3 separate regions of the Homo sapiens genome follow, and regions 2 and 3 are each linked to region 1. The links come from fine-mapping of genetic effects on gene expression. A gene starts in region 1. Each other region holds a variant in brackets. All regions are shown on one strand. Distances are from middle to middle.

The links.
Region 2: its variant is fine-mapped to the expression of FZD5 in whole blood (INTERVAL, PIP 0.90).
Region 3: its variant is fine-mapped to the expression of FZD5 in tibial artery (GTEx, PIP above 0.99).

What each region holds. Positions count from the first base shown.
Region 1 is chr2:207,765,937-207,773,936 of GRCh38, forward strand. FZD5 (frizzled class receptor 5) reads right to left here and starts at 3,970. Exons shown (of 2, transcript NM_003468.4): 1 at 3,329-3,970; 2 at 1-3,058. The coding sequence starts at 2,803. The coding sequence ends at 1,046. RefSeq lists silencers at 1,155-1,214, 2,721-2,780, 3,191-3,250, 3,591-4,270, 6,327-6,802 and enhancers at 1,249-1,805, 1,806-2,363, 4,821-4,870, 5,035-5,855.
Region 2 is chr2:207,704,894-207,713,163 of GRCh38, forward strand. CCNYL1 (cyclin Y like 1) reads left to right here and starts at 6,747. Exons shown (of 10, transcript NM_001330218.2): 1 at 6,747-7,223. The coding sequence starts at 7,004. RefSeq lists enhancers at 5,939-6,138, 6,149-6,198, 6,551-7,547 and silencers at 6,419-6,868, 7,289-7,398, 7,411-7,570. The variant C/T (reference allele first, on the strand shown) is at 3,486.
Region 3 is chr2:207,930,547-207,938,816 of GRCh38, forward strand. PLEKHM3 (pleckstrin homology domain containing M3) reads right to left here. Exons shown (of 8, transcript NM_001080475.3): 5 at 380-573. Among named protein-coding and RNA genes, the nearest start is that of PLEKHM3, 91 kb to the right of the region's middle. The variant C/T (reference allele first, on the strand shown) is at 4,379.

The DNA.
Region 1 (8,000 bases):
TGGAAATTTACTTATTAGAAGTATATCCATTTCAGTCCTTACATTTAAAAAGGAGCCCCCTTTAGCAACTGTCGCTAAGTATTGTCCAGAGGGAGTGGGTTTATACTTTTACCAAAATTATAACACAAGTTCCTTAAAAAAAAAAAAAAAAAAAAAAAAAGGGGATCACTGAAGCTTAAGAACCACCCACTACCTCTCAGGCACAAAGCTGCCATCTCACCAGCCTAAAATTCAAGCTCCACCAATCACCATCGCTTAGGCTCTCACTACTGCAAATATTTATGCCAGATCCTCTATAATGCTACCTCTAACTTATTCAAGACACAACGATGGTGCTGTTAGGAGTGAGAATTATTACAAGCACTACAGAAAAGAAACTGAACCTCCCTCTATAAACAAAGCTAAGGCTGAACACAAAACCGCTAAGCACTCCCTAACCTTGTCACTTTGGGGAGGCCCTGAGCTCATTATGCTCCCCTCCTAGGTATGACCTGGGGCTATAAACTGCAGCTCACCTTAAAGAATCATGGACACTTTAAGCAGTGGAAGGAGAAGCTGGCTGAAAAAGCACACCCAACAACTTCCCAGTCACAGCAACCGAAACGTTCACTGTTCACATTTTTTTTTAAAGACACACGTATAGGAAATATATTTTCCCAATTGAGACCACACAGTTCAAAGAAACCTGAACCAAGTGGAACTTCATTACAACGCCAACCTTAGGATTGTAAAGCCCCCAAAGCAAAGGTAAATTGTTGCCAAAATGCAACAAAGTTACAAATTAAGAAAAATACATATAAATTAAAAAGAGGGTTCCCATAAAGAAGGCAGTAAGAAACGCAAAATAGAATACACGTGAGCTGGGCCCCTTGGAGAAGACCTGGGACAGGTTCTTCCTCGAAAACGCCCCTCTTCCCTCTCTCCAAGTCGCCGCGGGAGGGGGCAACAGCACCATGAAGGTAAACGGAAGTGACCTTGGCAAAACTACCAAACAAAACGCCCCCCTCCCCTCAGCTCTCCGGCCGAGTCCCTCGGCGGCAGCCTCCTACACGTGCGACAGGGACACCTGCTTGTGGTAGGTGGCGGCGGGGCCCGGCGGCCCGGTCCTGCCTGTGAGCGCGGCGCTCGCCTCGGGGTAGTCCCCTGCGGCCATGGCGCCCCCGCTCTTGTGGCCGCGCCGCGGGCGGCAGCAGCAGCGGCTGGTGAAACGCCGCCACGACTCCACCGTCTTGCCCGACCAGATCCAGACGCCCGACGTGATGCCCACCACCAGGCACATGAAGTACTTGAGCATGAGCACCCAGTACTCGGGCTTGGCGCGCGGCTGGCCGGTGTCGTGGCCCGGGCAGGCGCAGGTGAGCGCCGCCTCCCAGCTCTCGCGGTAGTGCTGCTCGTACAGGTAGCAGGCCACCACAATGCTGGCGGGGACCGTGTAGAGCAGCGTGAAGATGCCGATGCGGATCATGAGCTTCTCCAGCTTGTCCGTCTTGGTGCCGCCCTGCTTGATGACGCTGCGGATGCGGAAGAGCGACACGAAGCCCGCCAGCAGGAAGAGCGTGCCCACCAGCAGGTAGAGCACCAGCGGGCCCAGCACGAAGCCGCGCAGCGAGTTCAGGTTCTGGTTGCCCACGTAGCAGATGCCGGCCACTGGGTCCCCGTCCACGGAGCTCAGCGCCAGTGCCGTGATGGACTTGACGCTGGGGATGAGCCACGCAGCCAGGTGGAAGTACTGCGCGTAGCCCGCGATGGCCTCGTTGCCCCACTTCATGCCGGCGGCCAGGAACCAGGTGAGCGACAGGATGACCCACCAGATGGAGCTGGCCATGCCGAAGAAGTAGACCAGGAGGAAGACGATGGTGCACAGTGCAGGGCCCGTGGTCTCGTAGTGGATGTGGTTGTGCTCGCGGCTGCAGGCCACGCTGGCATGGCCCACGACCAGACGCACCAGGAAGCCCAGCGACACGCACAGGTAGCAGGCTGACAGGAAGATGATGGGGCGCTCAGGATAGCGGAAGCGTTCCATGTCGATGAGGAAGGTGGCCACTGTGGTGGACGTGGAGATGAAGCACAGCACCGACCACAGGCCTATCCAGAAGGTGGCGAACGTGCGCTCGTCGGCACTGAAGGACGGCTGGTAGCAGGGTACCGCGCAGTTGGGCACCTGGCCCGTCCGCACCTTGTTGTAGAGCGGGTGTGACTCCTTCAGAATGGGCACGAAGGGCTCGCGACACTTGCACACGAACGGGCCCCCAGCGGGGCATTCGCCCCCCGAGGCCGGCGCCCCTGGCGGGCCTGGAAGGGTGGGCTTGGCTGGGAAAGGCCTGGGGGGCGCCGTGGTGGCCTCGCTGCGGTTGTAATCCATGCAGAGGACCTCGGCGTCGCGGCCCAGCACCGGGAGGCGGTCGCAGCTCATGCGCTCGGGCCAGGCGAAGCCGTACTGGCGCATCAGCGGCGAGCAGCCGGCCTTGGCGCGCTCGCACACCGAGCGGCAGGGCGGCAGCGGCTTGTGGTAGTCGGGCAGACAGATGGGCGTGTACATAGAGCATAGGAAGAAGCGCAGGTCCGGCGAGCATTGGATCTCCACCAGCGGCCAGAACTGGTGCACCTCCAGGCCCGCCTCGTCCTGCGTGTCGTGGTTGAACTGGTTGGGCATGTGCGTCAGGTTGTAGCCGATGCCGCGGCACATGGGCACCGTGATTTCCTGGCACACCGGGGCCTTGGACGCGGCGGCCGCCCGGCCCACCAGCTGCGCTAGGAGCAGCAGCAACAGCGAGGGCGGCGCGGATGGGTCAGGCCGAGCCATCGCCCCCTCCCTCCCCTCGCCTCCAGCAGCCCGCGAGGGACGCACACAGGCAGAGGAATCCGGGCCGGGGCTTCTCCCTCCGGCGTCTCGTGTGTGGCGCCGGGGCTGGCAACCTGTTGGTTGCTTTTTCCTTTAAAGAAAACCGTCCAAAGATAAACTGCTTCGGGAAGGCGCTGCCTCCGCTGGCAGCGCTCCGCTCCTCGCCGGATAGGGCTGGGGAGAGACGGTTAGGGCTCGGATTCCAGGGAAAGGACTCTTTAAAAAAGAAGGGGGAGAAGAAAGATTGCAACCACTCCCTGTTGGAGAGGCGTCAACAGTTCGGTCCCCGCGAGCTGTCTCCAAATCTCTTAAGTTAACCCCTTTCCTTTCCTCCCCGCTCCGCCTCCTGTAACCAAACTACCGACTCCCCCACCCTCTCTTTCCAAGCTGGGCCCTTCAGGCAGTGCCCGGAGACCAGAACCCTCAGCTTCCCGGAAAAGGGCACAGGAAACGGGAGAAGAACAGGGAGAAAGGGAAGGTTCTCACCTCCACGGATCCCGCCGAGAAGAGCAGACAGTCCCCAGCCAGCCTGGGTCCTCCGTCCCTGGGTCACTCCGCTGAGAAGCGCGACTCAGAGCCGGGCTGGCGCCCGGAAAGTTTAGCGACAGGCTGGGTACCCGTGGCAGCGGCACATGGCAGCAGGTGGGGGCGACTCAGAGTGGGGGGCGCCCCCAGAACAGGGGCGGCGCAGGCCGGTCACTCGCCCTCTCCTCCTCGGGAGCCCCCCGCATGATCCAGACGGAGCCGGGCAGGGGCAGGCCGTGCGTTCTCCCCGGGGCCGGGAGCCGGACGGAGGGCGAGCGCGCCTGGCAGCACCTGGGCGGGAGGAAGGCGGGAGGCGGGGGCCGTGGGACCCCGCCGCCTCACAGCACCGCGAGCAGCCGGCGCTGGCCAGGCCGGGACTGCATGGTGAGCGCCGGCCGCCGCGTCCCGCCCGCCGCTCGCCTCCTCCCCTGCAGGGGGCTCCGCGCTCCAGTGGACTCCTGGGGGCGGTGGCGACGCTCTCGGGACGTGCCCTGCTCGGCTCCTCCCCCGCGCTCTCGCACCCTTTCGCCCACCTCTGGCGAGCACGGAACCGCGCGCGGCGGCGACCACAGCGGACTCACGGCCGCAGGCTGGCTGCCCTCTCCCGCCCCGCCCGGGTCACCTGCTTCTAATGCCCGCCGGGAAGCCCCGCCCCGGCTCCGCCCCCTCAGGCCCGGGCGCGGTTGGTGGGCCGCCTCGCCAAGCTCTCCGCGCGTCCCCGCCCACTGCCCCGCGGGCTCGGCCTTTCCCCCGGCGCCCTCTGGCCCCGCCAGGAGCGGGCAGCCAAGGAGCGCTGACCAATCGCGGGCCTGGAGGAGATGGGGGCGGGGCGAATGCTAATCATGCCGCTCTGGGCACCCGGGCGGGAAGCCCTTGCCAGAAGTCCCTCCGGAGTTCTCTGCCCGCGCCCTGGGTGCAGGACTCGCTCCTGTAACTTCCTGGCTTATGCACCTTTGCTCCCAGGGCCCCTGCCCTTTCTGCCTGCAGCTAAGCGTCCTTACAGAGTTCAGTGCTTCTTTGAAAGAACTGCTCAAGGAATCACTCTTAGGCGTGGCTGTCTCCCTTCCGAGCTGTCTTGGAACTGTGTGAAAGAAGAGAGGATACTTACTGAGCCCTTTACTGTGTGCCCAACAAAGTGTTAATCGGTTACATCCTTTTTTTTTTTTTTTTTTTTTGAGACGAGTTGTTCTGTCTCCCAGGCTGGAGTGCAGTGGCGCGATCTCGGCTCACTGCAACCTCTGTCTCCCGGGTTCAAGCGATTATCCTGCCTCAGCCTCCTGCGTAGCTGGGATTACTGGCGCCCGCCACCACGCCCAGCTAATTTTTGTATTTTTGGTAGAGACGGGCTTTCACCATGTAAGGCTGTTCTCGAACTCCTGACACCGTGATCTGCCCGCCTCGGCCTCCCAAAATGCTGGGATTACAGGTGTGAGCCACCGCGCCCGGCCCGTTTACATCTTAAGACAAGATCTCACTCCTTACAACAATTCTGAGGCAGGTACTTCCTACAGGTGAAGAAACCGAGACTGAGACTTGGCCAAGGCAACCGAGCTAATCATAGTTCCCCCAAGAAAGGGCGACCTCGGCAAGCAAGTTCACCTCCGTATTCCGATCACCTGGCACATAGTAGCCGCCCAAATGGCAACCCTGGGATTCGAACCCAGGTAGTTGGTCAGCGGCACTCACCATCGTAGCCGCCCCTCCCCCCATACTATCGCAGCCTCCCTGGCTTCGACCTTTACTTTTGCATCTCTTAACAAAATCTTGTTGTGACAAGAAAATGGATTTCTTTCTGCCTTTAGAAGACCCAGAAAGATGTGAGTCCTTTATTGGTCGAGGTTTATAATCCCAGGCAGTTCCGAAGTCGCCCGCAGAGAGAAGCGATACCGACCCAGGGTTCTGTGCTGGGCAGGGCGCCGGCCTCCCCGTGCCCTTCCGTCCCCGGCTGCCTGCTGCTAAGCCGCGCACTTGCGCGCCGCGGGGGGTCGGAGGGCGCACCGATGGCGGGGACACGGCGGCGCTCTTCAGTTGCGCAATTATGCTACAAGTTTTAAATGTCCTAAAAATGCCTCTTTTCTATGTGTTGTAATTAGATTGGAAGACTGAGGTATTTAGCATACTTGAAATACATTCACACGCCTAGGAAGAGGGTTTAAATTTTTTCCTTCTCCCCAAACTTTTCCTTCCACTGGGCAAAGGGCGAAAATAGGCAAGAGGGCCTGGGGACACTTGAAGGGATAGGGACTGGACTAACTGGACTAGATCCAGATCAACCGCGGGTTACTGTCCATCTCCTGTGCTGGATCCCATTGGCACAGGTTGGAAGAATAAATTGCGGAAGTGCCACTCCCCTCCTGCGTATCAACAACGCTTTGTGGGCAATAATGAAGAACACGTGTGTTAATCCCAGCCTCCAAGTTAAAAAGGAACAAATATCAATCACTTCGCGGATATCAAAACTATTAATAAACGTTTAAAAGGCCGGGCGCCATAGCTCACGCCTGTAATCCTAACACTTTGGGAGGCTGAGGTGGGAGGATGGCTTGAACCCAGGAGTTTGCAGACCAGCCTGAGCAACATAGCAAGACCCCCAACTCTAAAATACATAATTAAATAAATGAATAAATATACCTTACATCTTTCTTTCTCTGGAATTCTACAGGTGTTCATATTTTATCTCTTGTGTTTTGGAATTACTTGCCACTCTGGGTCAGGAAGCATCCCAGGGTTGAAAATAGTGGGAGTTGAAAAGCTGTGGGCATAGCAGTGAGCAAGAAAGGGAAGCCCTCAGTGGAAAGTATGTGCAGACTATGAACATGCCAAGGGAGGCCCATCTCATTCTGTGCTCTTTATGCAACGTGTGTATTACTGGGGATGGACAAGTGTTGGCTAATAATAAAAATTATTTGAAGTTGGAGAATGTTAATCACTCACACTGGAATTTAGCCAGAATATTTGTGTTATTTCACACGGTTCTGTCAGAGGCATTTGAACCAGAGCGACTCCATCTTGGATAGGGACTGGGTAAAATAAGGCTGAGACCTACTGGGCTGCATTCCCAGGAGGTGAAGACATTCTAAGTCAACAGGGTGAGATAGGAGGTCAGCACAAGATACAGGCCATAAAGACCTTGCTGATAAAACAGGGCGCAGTAAAGAAGCCGGCAAAAACCCAGCAAAACCAAGATGGCCAGGAGAGTGACCTCTGGTCGTCCTCACTGCTTATTGTAACTTAATTATAATACATTAGCATGCTAAAAGACACTCCCACCAATGCCAAAGCAGTTTACATTTTACAGATGCCATGGCAACCGTCAGGAAGTTACCCTGTATGGTCTAAGAGGGGGAGGAACCCTCAGTTCCGGGAATTGCCCGCCCCTTTCCCGGAAACTCATGAATAATCCACCCTTTGTTTAGCATATGATCAAGAAATAACCATAAAAATGGGCAACCGGCGGCCCATGCCGCTGCTCTGTCTATGGAGTAGCCATTCTTTATTCCTTTCCTTCTTTTTTTTTTTTTTTTTTTTTTTTTTTGACAGTCTTGCTCTGACGCCCAGGCTGGAGTGCAGTGGGGGTGCAAGCTCGTCTCACTGCAACCTCTGCCTCCTAGGTTCAAGCAATTCTTGTGCCTCAGCCTCCCAGGAAGCTGGGATTACAGGCCTACGCCACAACACCCTGCTATTTTTTGCATTTTTAGTAGAGTCGGGGTTTCGCCATGTTCACCAGGCTGGTCTGGAACTCCTGGCCTCAAGTGATCCGCCCGCCTCGGTCGGACTCTCAAGGTGCTGGATTACAAGCATGAACCACCTCGCTCGGCCCTTTCTTACCAAACTTGCTTTCACTTTACTCTATGGATTCGCCCGGAATTCTTTCTTGCATGAGATCCAAAAACCCTCTCTTGGGGTCTGAATCAGGACCCTTTTCCAGTAAAGGTTCTGAAGAAAACAATGTTATCTACTGGTTTGTAAACCTTTTCTTCATCAACAGCAAAATCTTAATTTTACTTGGAGATCTCTAATAATAATAGTGATAGCAGAGAACTTTATGGAAAGAAACTTATTTCAGCTGGGCAAGGTGGCTCATGCCAGTAATTTCAACGCTTTGGGAAGCTGAGGCAGGAAGATCACTAGGGCCCAGGAGTTCAAGACGAGCCTTGGCAATATAGTGAGACCTCATCTCTAAAAAAAAAAAAAAAAAAAAAAAAAAGGAGAGAGCAAGACATTTTATATCGTATATGTTTTTGTATTGTATTGTGTTGCTTTTTGTCTATATTTTGAAGGCACTTTAAAATATGCTGGCTGTTTAACATGTATTAGGCAGGGTGCTAGACGTCGTTTAATCCTCAGATGAAGAAACTGGTGCTATAATGACTTTGATGACTTGCTTGAAGTTATTTATTTAGTCTATGGAGTCAAAAACTTTCACACACCGTGATGATGACAGTTCAGTAACAACATACTGTAAATGAAAATTGCTAAGAGAGTAGATTTTAAGTGTTCTCACCACACAAAAATAATGAAAAATATGTAGAGGTAATGCATATGTTAATTAGCTCAATTTACCCATTCTAGAATGTATACATATGTCAGAACATCATGTGGTACATCATAAATATATACAATTGTTATTTGT
Region 2 (8,270 bases), 61 kb before region 1:
TAAGGGTTTGGAGAAGGAACTGATTGCTTTGAAGATGCAGAATCTCACAGCCTTGAGGGAATCAAAGAAATTCATAGGCACTCTGAGGCTCAAAGACTGAATAGAGGTTTATCAGATGGCCAGAGCAGGGCAGCTACTGAGTTCCCAACTCTTTAGATCTTGAAGCTAACACTATGGCTGCAAAGAACAGGACAGGTCCAGTTTGGACACTCTAGCTTCAATTGCTCCTGTGAGCTCAGAGTTTTTCTTTTTCTTTCCTGAGCAAAGCATTGATTACATAACCAGAATTTTTTTTTTTTTTTTTTTTTTTGAGACAGAGTCTCGCTCTGTCACCCAGGCTGGAGTGCAGTGGCGCGATCTTGGCTCACTGCAAGCTCCGCCTCCCAGGTTCACGCCATTCTCCTGCCTCAGCCTCCCGAGTAGCTGGGACTACAGGCGCCCACCACTGCGCCCAGCTAATTTTTTGTACTTTTTAGTAGAGACGGGGTTTCACCGTGTTAGCCAGGATGGTCTCGATCTCCTGACCTTGTGATCCGCCCGCCTCGGCCTCCCAAAGTGCTGGGCAGAATTTTTTTTTAATAAGAGCATTCATGGCCGGGTGCGGTGGCTCATGCCTGTAATTCCAGCACTTTGGGAGGCAGAGGTGCGTGGATCAATTGAGGTCAGGAGTTCGAGACGAGCCTGACCAATATGGTGAAACCCCATCTCTACTAAAAAGTACAAAAAAGTTAGCTGGGCGTGGTGGCACACACCTGTAGTCCCAGCTACTCGGGAGGCTGAGGCAAGAGAATTGCTTGAACCCAGGAGGCGGAGGTTGCAATGAGCCAAGATTGTGCCATTGTACTCCAGCCTGGGCGACAGAGTGAGACTCCATCCAAAAAAAAAAATGTATTCTATTTCATCTGTGTGTTGAAAAGAAACAGCTCATGGAGTGTGTGGCATTATTCAATGTAGACTCATCAAACAAGCACCCTATAGAAGCAAGGTCTGCTCAGCACAGGAGACAAGGACCTATTCCCAATAAAATTCAATCTAAGTAGGTATTTTGTTTGTTCATTTGTTTTAATGTGCTTTCTATACAAACATATCGCTTAAGACTAGTTTCCTGGGCCCTATATCCATCCAGATTGCTGTCCTAATCCCTTCTGATAGAAAATTTCTAGAGGTACTTAAGGGTAGACTGCATGCTGTGAGGATAAAAATAGAGTTGTCTTAACAATAGGGCAATAGAGCCATCATGAGAAAAAGATGACGTCCTAAAATCTATGAGCTTTGTTTCTAGGGGACAAATCTGGTTCAAAAGACTTCCTCAAACTTTTCCCTGCTGTCAAGTTTAATGCAATTCCTCCTCCTCCTCCAGTTTTGTCTTTCTAATGTCAGCTTGATTTGAGAAGGTACCTGTCAAAAAGGCTACTAGAATAACCTGGTGGGAATGTGTTAAGCCATTGCAAGAAAATGGTTCCAGCTGGCCGGGTGTAGTGGCTCACGCCTATAATCCCAGCACTTTGGGAGGCTGAGGTGGGTGGATCACCTGAGGTCAGGGGTTCGAGACCAGCCTGGCCAACATGGTGAAACCCCGTCTCTACTAAAAAAATACAAAAAATTAGCCGGGTATGGTGGCACATGCCTGTAATCCCAGCTACTCAGGAGGCTGAGGCAGGAGAATCGCTTGAACCTGGGAGGCGGAGGTTGCAGTGAGCCGAGATCGTGCCATTGCACTCCAGTCTGGGCAACAAGAGCAAAACCCTGTCTCAAAAAAAAAAAATTTTTGCTCTGTCCCCCAGGCTAAAGTGCAGTGGCGCTATCTTGGCTCACTTGAACTCCGCCTCCCGAGTTCAAGAGATTCTCCTGCCTCAGCTGGAATTACAGGCGTCTACCACCATGTCCAGGTAATTTCTGTATTTTTAGTAGAGATGGGGTTTCTCCATGATGGCCAGGCTGGTCTCAAACTCCTGACCTCAGGTGGTCCGCCGCCTCGGCCTCTCAAAGTGCTGGGATTACAGGCATGAGCCACCAGACCTGGCTAGTTTATTTATTTATACTTGTGTTGTTCCCAGATTAATTTTGTAGTAAGTTTATTTCCTGAGCAAGTGTAGATGGCAGCTCTCTTATAAAACTAAGTAACTGCAAACAACATGTTGTTATAGTCATTGGAACTGGGAGTGGAGCAGGCATTTGCTTAGAAAACCAGGAGCCTGAACAGACACTTCCGGAAAAAAAAAAAAAAAGGATCTTCCACCCCCACTAGGAGGTGATCTGAGGAAGTCTAGCAGTGGGCTGAAAAGGCTGGGTAAGATTTTAGACCTTTTGCAGCACCTAGGCAAATGAAACTGGAAGCAAATACACCAGTTTATAAGGAGGAGAAAAGAGCCCAGGAAGGCAAAAGGAAGCTCCTAGTCTCTCTTAAAACTGCAAGCCCTTCCTAGAATTTGTCTCATAAAATACCCTGATGTTTGGAACTGTAATCACAGTGAAAATTTGGGGCAAGAACTGACCTGTCCAATGAGCATTATCTGCCCTGGTGATATGGCAAACTAACACCCTTCTCGTTTTTTTTTTCAGAGCATCATTTCTCATAAATTAGCTTTCTCATCTCAACTGACTCACTTGGCAGAAACAAATCTACATGGTGTAGAAGAGAGAAGGCAGGGGAATAGTTCAGAAGGAGTGAAAAGAGATAAGTGAAGAGATAAGTGGAAGAAGGGCAGTTTACTAAATTAGAGGTACCAGCACCATCGTATGACGAATTTACTGAAAAATCCAGATTGGAATTTTTTGAAATCAGGAATGAGAGAAGTTGAGCTGTTCCACATCATATTAGGCATAACAGTAATTCTTAAAATTTTTGCCAAGAGCTACCTTTGAGGGTATGATGAAAACTATAGACCCTCTGCTGAGAAAAAAAATGTATATATGACTTACACACAAAATCCTATTATATTAGAACAACTAGTTATGATACCTGAGATGGAACCAATTAGTCACAACACACACACAATAAACTGTATATTCCTGATCTCTTGACTGTCATAAAATTGTTCTTGCATCTAACCTAAAGTCTCATTCTATAGTTTAATCCTCTCTGTACTTTTTCTGTCTTCTTAGCTTAAGAAAAGATCATTACAAATTCCTTGTTTTTCACATACTCTTGCAAAGGGCTATGAAATTTTATTGCTATTATTCTTTCTCGCTTTTTTTTTTTTTTTTTTTTTTTTTTGAGACGGAGTCTCTCTCTGTTGCCCAGGCTGGAGTGCAATGGTGTGATCTTGGCTTATTGCAACCTCCGCCTCCTGGGCTCAAGCAATTCTCCTGCCTCAGCCTCCCAAGTAGCTGGGACTACAGGCACGTGCCACCATGCTCAGCTAATTTTTTTGTATTTTTAATAGAGACGGGATATCACCATGCTGGCCAAGCTGGTCTCAAACTCTTGACCTTGTGATCCACCCGCCTTGGCCTCCCAAAGAGCTGGGATTACAGGCATGAGC[C/T]ACCATGCCAGGCCTGTTGTTATTCTGGTTTTAAACAGAAACTTCCTTAATTTTTCCTTACAGAATGTGGCAGAGAGTGCTAGTTGCCTTCCAATATCCGTTTCTTCCTTTTGTATTAGTCACCCTAGCTATATGACTATTGTTTTTTTTTTTTGAGCCTTCCCTGCAGCTAGGTATGGCTATGTGACTAAGCTTTAAGCCAATGATTTGTAAGCACTGTGCTATATGGGCCTTCCAAAATTTTTTCTTTCTTTTCTCTTTTTTTTTTTTTTTTTTGAGACAGAGTCTCACTCTGTCACCCAGGCTGGAGTGCAGTGGCACCATCTTGGCTTGCTGCAACTTCCACCTCCTGGGTTCAAGTGATTCTCCTGCCTCAGCCTCCCGAGTAGCTGGGACTACAGCTGCCACCATGTCCGGCTAATTTTTTTGCATTTTTTTTGGAGACGGAGTTTTGCTATGCAGCCCAGGCTAGAGTGCAGAGGTGTGATCTTGGCTCACTGCATCCTCCGCCTCCATGGTCCTGGTTCAAGCAATTCTCCTGCCTCAGCCTCCTGAGTAGCTGGAATTATAGGCAGGCACCACCATGCCCAGCTAATTTTTGTATTTTTAGTACAGACAAGGTTTGATCATGTTTGCCAGGCTGGTCTTGAACTCCTGACCTCATGATCCGCTTGCCTCGGACCTCCCAAAATGCTGGGATTACAGGTGTGAGCCACCGTGCCCAGCCTTTTTTTTTGTGTTTTTAATGGAGACAGGGTTTTGCCACGTTGGCCAGGCTGGTCTCGATCTCCTGACCTCAGGTGATCCACCCCCCGCTCAACCTCCCAAAGTGCTGGGATTACAGGTGTGAGCCACCATGCCCGGCCCCCAAATTTTTTCTTTCTTTTTCCTTCCTCCACCCTGCTGTCTGGAATGAAGACCCAATAGCTGGAGATCAATAGCCATCCTAGGCCATGAAGGTGGAGGTGATGGCCAATGTTGTCTGTTGACTCCCTTACTGGAAGTTTTGCAGGAACAGGAGCCTTTTTTTATCTTGGTGAAAGCAACATCCCCAGCACTTAAAAAGTATGTGACATGTGCTAAGAGCTCAGGTATTGAATGGATAGTGAACGTATGAGTTAACTCTGGACCTATATAAAGTCTCAGCTTCTTTCACAGAATCAAACTCTTGCTTAATTCAAAGCACATTCCTCCTACTTGCTTCCCTTTGCTCTCCCAGGCTTGCCACTGTTACAGAATTTTTTTTTCTTAATTCTCTCTAATATTCCCTTCATTCAAAATGTTTTAAAATCTATTTCCGTAACAATGCTTCCCAATATCTTCCTGGTTAGCAAGTTTTAAATTCTTCAGTTTTCAAGGTCGTAGATATCTATTTTTGTGTATGTCTGTTGTTAAATGCAGGCATTATTTTGTACCTTAAAATAGGCATCGTCTCAAGTCTACAAGAATCATCCAAAATGGTATCTAATGACATTCCTAGGGTTTCAGACAATTTTTTTTTTCTTTGAGACGGAGTCTTGCTCTGTCGCCCAGGCTGGAGTGCAGTGGACTGATCTTGGCTCACTGCAATCTCTGCCTCCCAGGTTCAGGAGATTCTCCTGCCTCAGCCTCCCTAGTAGCTGGGACTATGGGTGGACGCCACCATGCCTGGCTAATTTTTGTGTTTTTAGTAGAGACGGGGTTTCTCCATGTTGGTCAGGCTGGTCTTGAACTCCTGACCTCAAGCAATTCACCCGCCTCTGCCTCTCTAAGTGCTGGGATTACAGACGTGAGCCACCGCGCCCAACAAGAGCAAAACTCCGTCTCAAAAAAAAAAAAACAAAAAAAAAACAATCCCATTTTGCAGGTTTTATAGAAGAAATTGGGACGCAGAAGTTAAGTTACTTCCGCAAGCTTACATGACTGCTCAGGGTGAGGGTCCCTGATCATGATGATCAGAAAATAAAGGTAGAAATCAAGCTTAGGGAGGAAGTGACATTGTGTGTATATATATATATTTGTTTATTTATTTTTATTTTTATGTTTTATTTTTTTGAAACGGAGCCTAGGTCGCCCAGGCTGGAGTGCAATGGCGCGATCTCGGCTTACGGCAACCTCTGCCTCCCGGGTTCAAGTGATTCTCCTGCCTCAGCCTCCCGAGTAGCTGGGAATACGGGCGCGTGCCACCATGCCCGGCTAATTTTTTGTATTTTTAGTAGAGACGGGATTTCACCGTGTTAGCCAGGATGGTCTGGATCTCCTGACCTGGTGATCCGCCCGCCTCGGCCTCCCAAAGTGTTGGGATTACAGGCATGAGCCACCGCGCCCGGCCGGGATTGTTTTTAAGGGTTAAATAAATATACCACAGTTGGAACACTGTCTGGCACATAGTGCTTGCCAAATGGTAACTATTCATCTTCATGGAATCAAGACTGTGGTGCCCCACTGCATGGTTCTCAGTTTTGCGTGAGAAAATCGTGCTTTCTGTGCTGTTTTTAGTACAAGAAGAGAAACCTGGAAGTCCCTGCCTAGAGGAGAGAAACAGGCAAGAAAAGGGAGTTGGCGAGTCCCAGCATTTCAGAGTTGGCAGGGACGAGTTAGGTCCCTATTTTATGGATGAGGAAGTGGAAGGGTGACGTGTCCTCGAGTCTCATTCAAGACCCACAGCCACAACTCTTTATGGAGAGTAGGACCAGGGCCCCAGGGTTGCTATGATCACGTTGCAGGTGAAAACTAACGCTCATTGGAAGACAGGAGCGGAGCACTGAGTTACAAAAACAGTTAACAATTTGGGTGTAACCAAGTTTAGTGAGCAAACGAAAGCTGTCAGACTCGGAAGAAGAGTTGCTAATGGAGCGAACTCTTTACTAATAACGGCTTTCTACAGAGATCATTGACACAGCTTCCAGTTACAAATGCCCGTGCGCTTCCAGTAGGACCGGAAAGCTCCCAGCAGCCAGCGATGAATGAAAACCCGAGTCTGGGATAGCGGCGTGAGGGGCTGGGCAGCTGCCAGGCGGGGGCGGGGCAGCAGGTCACGTGCCTGGCTTCGAGGCGGGCGCCGGAGGGGGAACTCTGACCATGATTGGTTCCTCCTAACCAGGTGACCGCAGGTCGCGTTCCGGTTGGCAGGCACCGGCCAGGGCCAGCGGCCTTCAGTCGGTAGGCGGCGGCGGAAGGAGGAGGAGCTCCAGCCGCGCTCTCTCCCGGCAGTGGCTGTGCTTCACAGCGCTTGTTGGGTTCCCCACCCCTTTTAAATAAGCCGGGCTGGTCACCGCCCTCGCAGACGAGTCAGCTTAAGGGAGGCGGCGGCAGCGCGGCGGTGGGGGTGCGGCCGAGGCCCGAGCCCTGCCCGGGGCCGGGCCGCGGGGCGGGCGGGCGAACCGCGGGCGAGGCGGCGTCTGCTTGCGCGGTGCAGCCCCAGCGTAGCCCGGGGCTGCCGGTGCCGGCCGCGCCATTGTTGGGGGAGGGGGCGGCTGTTGAGGGCGGCGGAGTAGGGGGCGAGCGAAGGCGGTGGCAGAGAGGAGCGGAGGCTTCCCATGGGGAACACGCTGACCTGTTGCGTGTCCCCCAATGCCAGCCCCAAGCTGGGCCGGCGCGCGGGGTCGGCGGAGCTGTACTGCGCGTCCGACATCTACGAGGCGGTGTCCGGGGACGCGGTGGCGGTAGCGCCCGCTGTGGTGGAGCCTGCCGAGTTGGATTTCGGAGAGGGCGAGGGCCACCACCTGCAGCACATCAGCGACCGCGAGATGCCCGAAGGTAAGGAGGCGGCGGATGCCATCCGCCCTCGGGCTCACCTCTGCCCGCCTCCTCCCCCAGAGTCCCCCGGGAGGCATCCGCCGCCTCGGGCTCCTTCCTGCCGGTAGCCGGCCCCGGGACGAAGGCTGGTTCTGCCTCGCGTCCCCACCCCTTATTCTTGCCCTGCTGCGTCTGGCCAGTTTCTTTTCCTCCTCCTTACCGTAACGCCCAGTTCTTGCTCCCGCTTCCCATTCTCCCAAGCCGGCGTGGGACCCTCTAGTCCGCCGCCCTTCTTGTTTGTAGCTCTGTTCATTGTCTGGTGGGACTTTGCTAAGACTTTTGGGGTATATTGTTTTCCTTTTCTCAATGGAAACTCAAATACCTCAACTTCGGAGTACTCATCCCATTCCCTCCCTTAACCCATCCAGATGGTACCTAAGTGAAGGAACCAGGTAAGGGTCTGATTGTTCCTTCCTCCCATCCGTGAAGATAGCTGATGCCCGCGACAGTTTAGACCCAGATGTTTGAGGATTTCTTATCTAGACTCAAAATAGAGGTTGCCATAGGAGACACTATATGGTATTCCTAATAGGTTAAGTCGGCGTGAAAGAAGCTGCTTTATTCCTTCCAACTATAATTTGAACACAGAAAGAAAGAAAATGGGGGGAGGGGCGTAAAATGACTGTGAAGGGTGTGAGAGGTTATTACCAGGGGTGCAGACAAGTTGTTTTTTTGAGACGGAATCTCGTTTTGTCGCCCGCCCAGGCTGGAGTGCAGTGGCGCGATCTCGGCTCGCTGCAACCTCCGCCTCTCGGTTTCAAGCGATTCCTCTGCCTCAGCCTCCCGAGTAGCTGGGATTACAGGCGTGCGCCACCACGCCCAGCTAATTTTTGAATTTTTAGTAGAGACGGGGTTTCACCATGTTGGTCAGGCTGGTCTCTAACTCCAGAGTTCTTGATCCGCCCGCCTCGGCCTCCCAAAGTGCTGGGATTACAGGCGTGAGCCACCGCGCCCAGAGGTTGTTAACTCAAAGGAGTTTAGCCACGGAGTTCTGATTACTTTAAAATT
Region 3 (8,270 bases), 160 kb after region 1:
TGATGAGAAACAGGAATTGAAATTGGGAAAAGTATAAAATACTACATAAGTGACCAATATAGATATTTCCATGATTATTATCTCAAATTAACATATTGGTAAGAGAAGCCTTCACCGTCCTGGGCACTCGATCCATGGGTGAAAGCCTTCAGTAACGGTGAATGTTATTTTCATTTTGCTTGGCTTAACCAAATGGGGACCTTGGAGTAAAAAAAGTAAAAAGATGAGCCCAGAGAGAGGCTGGCAGTGGAGAGGCGGAGGGCGAGCCACAAAATTAGAGGCGGTCCGTGCTGGAAAGGCCCTTTGGAGATAATCTCACCACCCTCCGTGGGCGGGAAAGAAAAACAAACGGGAGCCGTCTGAGATTTATGACTCTTACCTGCGGCGGAGATCCTCTGCCACCGCTGCCCGGCAGCTGAACAAATAGGCTCGGAGCGACTTCAGCCGCTGCCGCAGCCGCAGCACGGCGGCCAGCGGCTCTGCGTGGTGGTACAGCATGGCGTTCTCCTGCTGGATGTCGATGAGCGGCTCTTCGTACACGTACTCCAGAAACTCCTTGGCCTGCTTCGACACCTACAAAACAAGCGTCGTCAGTCAGTCCTGGAGAAGCACCTGGCTCTCCACACCTGCTCAAACTAGGAACCATAGCTGAAATATCAAAGGAACACGATTATTTTCTCAATACAGACAAATGAAAAAGTCTGTAGTTGAATTAAATGTAAATTTTGACTTCTCTCTCTTCCAGACATTCAACTGTAAGCTAGGAAGGAATTTATTAATTCTGTATCTTGACTGCAGTGGTGATTACAGGAACCTACACATGTGACAGAACGGCACAGTATGGTGCCGTTATACTGACTTATTATACCAATGTCAACTTGCTGTTTTTGTTTTTGATATTGGACCTTAGTTGCCTAAGATGTAGCCAAGGGAGGAAACTGTGAAAGGTACACAGAACCTCTCTGAATTGTCTATGCAATTTCCTGTGAATCCACAATTATTTCAAAATAAAAAAGGAATTAAGAAGACTGTTTTAACACAAATGCTGATTTTTAAAAACGTCATAAATTTATATGTGCATATATATGTATGAATATTCCATAACACTTTTGAAAAGTAGCCACTTAAAAAATAGGTAAATCAAGGCCGGGTGTGGTGGCTCATGCCTGTAATCACAGCACTTTGGGAGGCTGAGGCGGGCAGATCACTTGAGGTCAGGAATTTGAGACCAGCCTGGCCGACATGGCGAAACCCCGTCTCTACTAAAAATACAGAAATTAGCCAGGCGTGGTGGCACATGCCTGTAATCCCAGCTACTTGGGAGGTTAAGGCGGGAGAATTGCTTGAACTCAGAAGGCGGGGGTTGCAGTGTGCCCAGATCATGCCACTGCACTCCAGCCTGGGCAACAGAGCGAGACTCCATCTAACAAACAAACAAACAAATAAAAAGACTAAATCATGTACATATTACAACATTCAAAAAGGATAAAAGGATATTATTTGCAGAATAATCTGACTGACTAGCAAACAAGCTCAAATATACTGCTTCAGTGACCAGAAAGGAGTTGCTCTTATTACAACTTTGAACTTCAGCTAACTCCAGCCAATATATCCATCCAATTCTGTATTCACCTTGAGTGGTAATCCACGGTAATCCACAAGACTATGAAAGTTCATTTTATAATGTCATTGTCATCAGTAGAAACAAATAGTACATGGAAACACAATGTCTCAGAGATACAGAGGGAGTGGCTTAAATAATGCATAACATGAGGGTAATTTTTCAGAATCTCTACATACCAATCACTGACAGTGAGATGTAGATTGGCTACTAATACATAGAAAGTTGGCTCAGTTTCTATTTATGGAAGATAAAACCTCTCTAAAAACTTTCCATTAAAATCTCTCTAGGAGCAAGGTTAGAATTCAACATTAAAATAAACAAAAAACTTTGCTTATTAAAAAGAAAAAAAAATCTATGTTTCATATGGTAGGCTAGAAGTATATTAATAAAGATATATAGGATACAGTTCCTTCCCTCAAGTGGCTCACTGTGTAGTATGAGACAAGTATTTAAAACAAAACCACATGTAACATGCAGCATGTACCCTGTCATCTGCTACAAAAGAGGTATGGATGGGGCCCACTGGTAGCTTAGAGGAAGGAGAAATCAACTCTCCTGGTGGGGAGAGGGTTGGCAAAGCAGGTGGCACTTGGATCTGGGTGTAGAAGATAAACAGAAATTCACTTGGTGAACAAATGTGGGACAGAATAGAGTACAACAGGCAGAAACAAACATAAAAACCCCTCTGTATGTATATGTCATAATTAAATGTATGGCTATTATATGTTGATTATAAATTTCTCGTACATAAACATAAAATTCAATATGATCATTTTCTTATATTGCAAAGCTTATACCAAAGTTTATGTTCTTTATAGGAATGCAAAAAAATACATCATTTAAAAAATAAACTTCTAATTTTTTTCCTTATAAGCAATTATTTTTGAGGTACCTGTTGTGTTGTGTGATCCTATAGCATCCTGCAGAGTTAGAGTTACAGAATTAGAGAAGTTTACAGTCTCTGAAAATCACAAAAAGGCACCTAGAATTAGCCAAAATCTTCAACTATCTAACCAGATTGGAAATAACAGTTATTCCTCACTTTTATTTTTGAGGCATCTATTAATAGACACAGGTACATGCCAGATACTGTAGCAGGCATTAGGCATTCAGTGGAGAATAAAACAAACATGGCCCTGTCTTTAGGTATAATAGCCCACAGTTCAGTGGGAAAGAAAGACTTGGGTTTAAATATTTTATTTATCATGATTAAATATTTGTGATATTTAAATATCTTAAAATGAGGAAAAGACTGATGGTGTTTTGGGAAATGAAGTACAACCCACTTGAAACTGTTGCTGAAAAATGATGTATTGTACAATTCAATTAGTCTTTCTGGCTCTGTTGAGCAGTGTTTATATGGAGTCAGGGCCCTGCTGAATTAGGTTAACAATGCTACCTTTTAGTAGGTGAACAGAGCGACAGAGGGCACTGGCCAGTCTCCCAGGCCTTAAAAGGCTTCTCTCTTCAGGTGGTACTTAAGCCCGAAAGGAAGAAAAAAATCTTTTACAGAGAAAGTAAAAGCAGTGAGACAAATGGAACAGCAGCCACTGACATCAGTATTCATAAACTGAAATTACAAAAAACAAAAACAGAGCTCGTTTCAACCATGTCGGAGGCGCTGCCTTCACCAGTTGTTACTAGCAGTAGGCATATGGTGCACATCGCTACCGCTGCTGCCTGAGTACATGAACAAATCCCCACCACGTTCAGCCATTTTTGGCAGCAAGGCTGAGCACATGCACTCATTTTTGAGAATCAGCCACTAATAATCGGTGAGGGAATTTTTGAGAGAACTCAAAATCTGGCATGGCCTACTATTTTTGCAAAATAGAGCATTGTATCCCCACTGATTTCCTAAGTTCTAAATGACCCTCCACACTGGCATGAGGATTGTACTCTCAAACTCAACTCGAATTAAAAATGTTAAAAAAAAAGTTACTTAGGAACAAAAGCCAAAGATATTCTTAGGTGATAAAGTTTATGTGAGAAAAAGTTTTTTTGTTAATATAAATATTTCATGAATTATATGTGAACACTGACTATGTTCCAACTAAGAGCTAAGAGCTACTGTCCTACTTCTTGCCAACCAAACTATGAAAAACCTAAAAAGCCTGCTGCCATTTCTGATGTAAAGAAAAATTCAGCTGATAGTCAGGTGCAGATGAATGAGCTCAAATGAATGGTTTCGGCTGGCACTCTTTTCCATGATACCACTCCATTCACATTAGTATTAGTATTGACCTATTAGTATTTTACCAAATAATATTTAATATTTATTAATTATATTCCTTCTATTCATATGAACGAATTTCTTTCCATAGCTTTTGTAGCTTATAAACAGAACAGTTTAAGCTATAAGAACTCAACTCTGTGACAGTGATTGTGCTGCAGTTTGTGAACTGATTCTTTCTTCACAACCCTGCCATCTACATGATTCAAGAGAGATGAGAAGGAGGAATCCAAGAGGAAAGAGGCCTCCTCCCCTACCTCACATTCAGGAGGAGGTGGAGAAAATGGTAAAATCACATTATGATTAGCTACAAACTAACAATGATCAGATCTGCTATTTACACATATACATTTATAAGTAAACACATGTCACTTGATTTGAACATTATTAAGTGTCATCAGTATAGATTCGAACATAATACGACTTTTGTTACGCTAGTGACAGCCACTTCTTAAAAACAAAGTTCTTGAATGTTGTTCAGGTTTGCGTAATCCTGAGGGAGAGTGTTCTGGTATGCTCCC[C/T]CACAAAAATAGCCCCTGGTGATAACGTAATGGGGCAAAGGGAATGTTTAACCATAGATAGCAATTTGGAGACGACATGGTATTATGGTGGTGGTAGTGTGGACTTTGTTTTTATTAAAGGAGGAAAATGTATCAGAATAAAACACGAATAAGAAGGACTTGTAGAATAACAAAGACTAGTAAAGATAATCTAATTCAATTTTTCTCAGCTTGTGTTCCAAGGAACACTAGTCCCACAAAAAAAGACGTTTTAAGGTCCAATAAGATGTATGCCACACACCACTTTGTTTCCTTGGAGATTCAAAGTACAGCATGTTTGCATATTAAAACTGAGACATCTTGTACCGAAGAAAACCTGCTTAACCCAGCCACTTCTCAAAGCTATTTTACTACAGACAGGGCAGCTGTTGAGTGCTGCACATGATGCATGGGCGGTGGGAGTGTGGGAGATAAGATCCAGCCCGGACCCCCACTCACCAACCAGAAGAAAGGGCGTCTTTCTCTACCTTGCTGCATCCTCTTGCTAAGCTGTGAGTTTGCTGAGCTGTGTTCTGGAGGGGCTCTTTTCCAATTCCCATAAAGCTGGCCTAGCTGTGGCCCTCCTTTTTGCGTAACACCTACTAACACGAAAGAATTTGGTAATGCTCCATGGAATACACTTTGAGAAACACTGAACTAATCCACTGCCTGTATTTAATAGAAGAGAAAATTGAGTACAAAGAGCATAAGTAACTTATTTGTGGTCATGTCATGGTAGAATTAGAGCCACAACTCAGATCCCTGGAGACTCTGCTCTGTGCTTTTTAGCATTGTTTATATTCACAATTCTTATTTTTTAATAATGTTACCATACTCTATCAGCTTATCACTTCATAAAAGAGTTTTCCTGTCCCTTCTCCATCTTACAGCAAGTAGGCTACAAATGAAGACTAATCTATAATGTAATTAAGCAGGACACTGACATGTAGGATCCCATTTGATTTTAACTTTAAAATAAAACTGAAGTTCAATAACATTTCATTTATACAAAAGTTACTTATTTGTGCAATTTATTTTATTTTATTCTATTTTAGAGACAAGGTTTTGCTCTGTTACCCAGGCTGGCTGGAATGCAGTGGCATGATCATAGTTCACTGTAACTTCGAACTTCTGAGCTCAAGGGATCCTCCCACCTCAGCCTCTGGAGTAGCTAGGTAGGACTACGTGTGCATGACACAAGGCCTGGTTAATTTTTAAATTTTTTGTAGAGATAGGGTCTTGCTGCTGCCCAAGCTGGTCTCAAGCAAATCCTTCTGCTTCAGCCTCCAAAAGCACTAGGATTATAGGCACGAGCCACTGCGCCCAGTCTATTTGTGTATTTTTTTTACTGTCTTTCTCCTTTCACTGGAATAAGAGCATCCATAAGGGCAGAAACTATATCCCCAGTGCCTAGAACAGTGAGCACAATAAATATCCAATAAATACTTGTTGAACAAATGAATGAATAATTTACAATGCTCTGGCCACAACTTTGAAGCATACACTCTTGCTTTAGACATAGTTCCTACAGCTTGGTTATTTGTTTCTAAGTTCATAACATATTTAGAGTCCATAAAGAAGAAAAGATAGCTAGAGGCAGCATGGATACAACATAAATGACAGCTGACATCCTAGCACCAGGGGAAGAGAGGCACCTACAGGAAGCTACAAGGTGAAAACAAAGAGCATACGACCCTAATTGAGGGCAACTTGGCACTATCCATCAAACTCACAAATTGTACATGCCTATATCTAGGAAGTTATCTACAGATAGTTTTGCTTATCAATGAAAAAAAATTATATTCAATATTATGTAAAAAGTTATTCATTGAATTACTGTCTATAATAGCAAAAGACTGGAAAAATCTAAATGTCCACCAAAAAAGAACTGGTTAGATAAATTAGTGTGTGTGTGTGTGTGTGTGTGTGTGTGTGTGTGTAAATATGCATGTAAAATTCATGAAATATTTTAAAAAATGCAAGGAAGAGTTTTATTATCTAAATGGAAAGCTCTCTAAGCACAGGGTATATACTATATTGTCATTTTTGTATGAAAAAATACATGTACATAAAATATCTCTGGAAGGATACACGAGAAAGGAGTGTTTTGGTTGCCTCTGAGAAGAATGGGGTGAGTAAAAAGGAGATTATTTATGTATGTACGCACGCCCCCTTTTACTTTTTGAACCTTGAACTTTCTGAAAGTATACTGTATTCAAAAAAGAAGAATGAATAAAATATAGCAGTGCAAGGCATTTAGGGAAAAACAGCCTCACTTATCCCATTAAACTCTCAAGTTATCTATCACAGGACAGAACAATCATTTACATTTATAATTCTGGTCCAGGCACAGTGGCTCACGCCTATAATCCCAACACTTTGGGAGGCTGAGGCAGCAGGATTGCTTTAGGCCAGGAGTTTGAGACCAGCCTGGGCAACATAGCAAGACTTTGTCTCTACCAAAAACTAATTTAAAAATTAGCCAGGTGTAGTGGCGTGCGCCTGTAGTCCCAACTACTCAGGAGGCTGGGGTGGGAGGAATGCTTGAGTGCCAGAGTTCAAGGCTGCAGTGAGTTACAGTCATGCCACTGCACTCCAGCCTGGGTAACAGAGCACGACACTGTCTCTAAAAAAAAAAAAAAAAATTCCAAGGCATTAAAAAAGTTAACTTTTAATATACATTTTCTTAAATAAAATATGACAGTTAAAATTTATAAAATTATAAAAGTAATATAATCCCATTACTGAAAATTTGGAGAATAAAGATCAACAGAGGAAAAAATATCTATAATCTTACCACCGTAAAATAACCTTATTGCTTTGGTAAAACATTTCCTTCCTGTGTTTATTCCCATCTCTATCATAAAAATTCATAGCCAAAATCATAATAAAATCAATTCTAACGGTAATACTTCTTAGTCCTGTTAAAACAGTCAGTGGGCTAATGGAGGAGAAATTAGGAAACCTTCAGTTTAATTACAATTTGTTCTCAGAATCTCCAAATGACTCTGATCAAGAGGTTTTTCCCATCAGTGAGCTTTTCCTCAGCTCCACAAGGGCAGTAGAGCTTGCCTTGAATACCTCTCAAGATGTAGAAATAGGAAATGGTTTATGTAACATGGAAAACCCCTAGCTAAATGGAATGTGAATATTCAAGCTAGGATACAAATAAATTTTTTTAAAACAAAACTAAGGGGAACTATTTGGAAGAGTTAGGGTTGTTTGATTTCCTTAACATCTCTTTGCTACGCTTGATATTTTTGATTAGGGGGATAGGGAAAGTTATCTTCAAAGAGATTTTATTAGAAAATGGCTATAGAAATTGAGGATAGGGTTTAGCGCTTCCTAATCTTGGAGCTCAATTCAATCTTCAGTATAACACCAGAAAATAGACGAAATCCTGCTTTAAAAATAATTAGGATTATTAATACTCCAGAGGGCAGGCCAGGAAATGCTTAAGATGACAGATTTCATTCTGTTCTGCAAAACCATTTTTTTACTCTTTTAAATGGCTATTCAAGCCAGTCACGTACTTGCTATTAAGGACAGCAGGCAGATCTAACAGAACGATGTCTGGTCTTGGAAACTGATAGGTCTGAATTGATCCTCACAATTAGGAGAATTAAGTTAAATCCTGATATCTGAGAAAAGACAGCCAGACACTGGACTAAATGGAATATAGTTACTTAATGCCAATGAGAGATGATCCAGATAAAATCCACCAGGTCCACTTTTGCTTTAAAATCTTCCTTGGTCCACTAAGAACTTGGGAAGGAGTGGTCTGACAAAGGAGATTTTCCTCATGTGCAACACGGATGAAGCGAGTGTACCTAATATCTTCAATTGCCTAGCTATCCTCTCAAAATCAAATCTA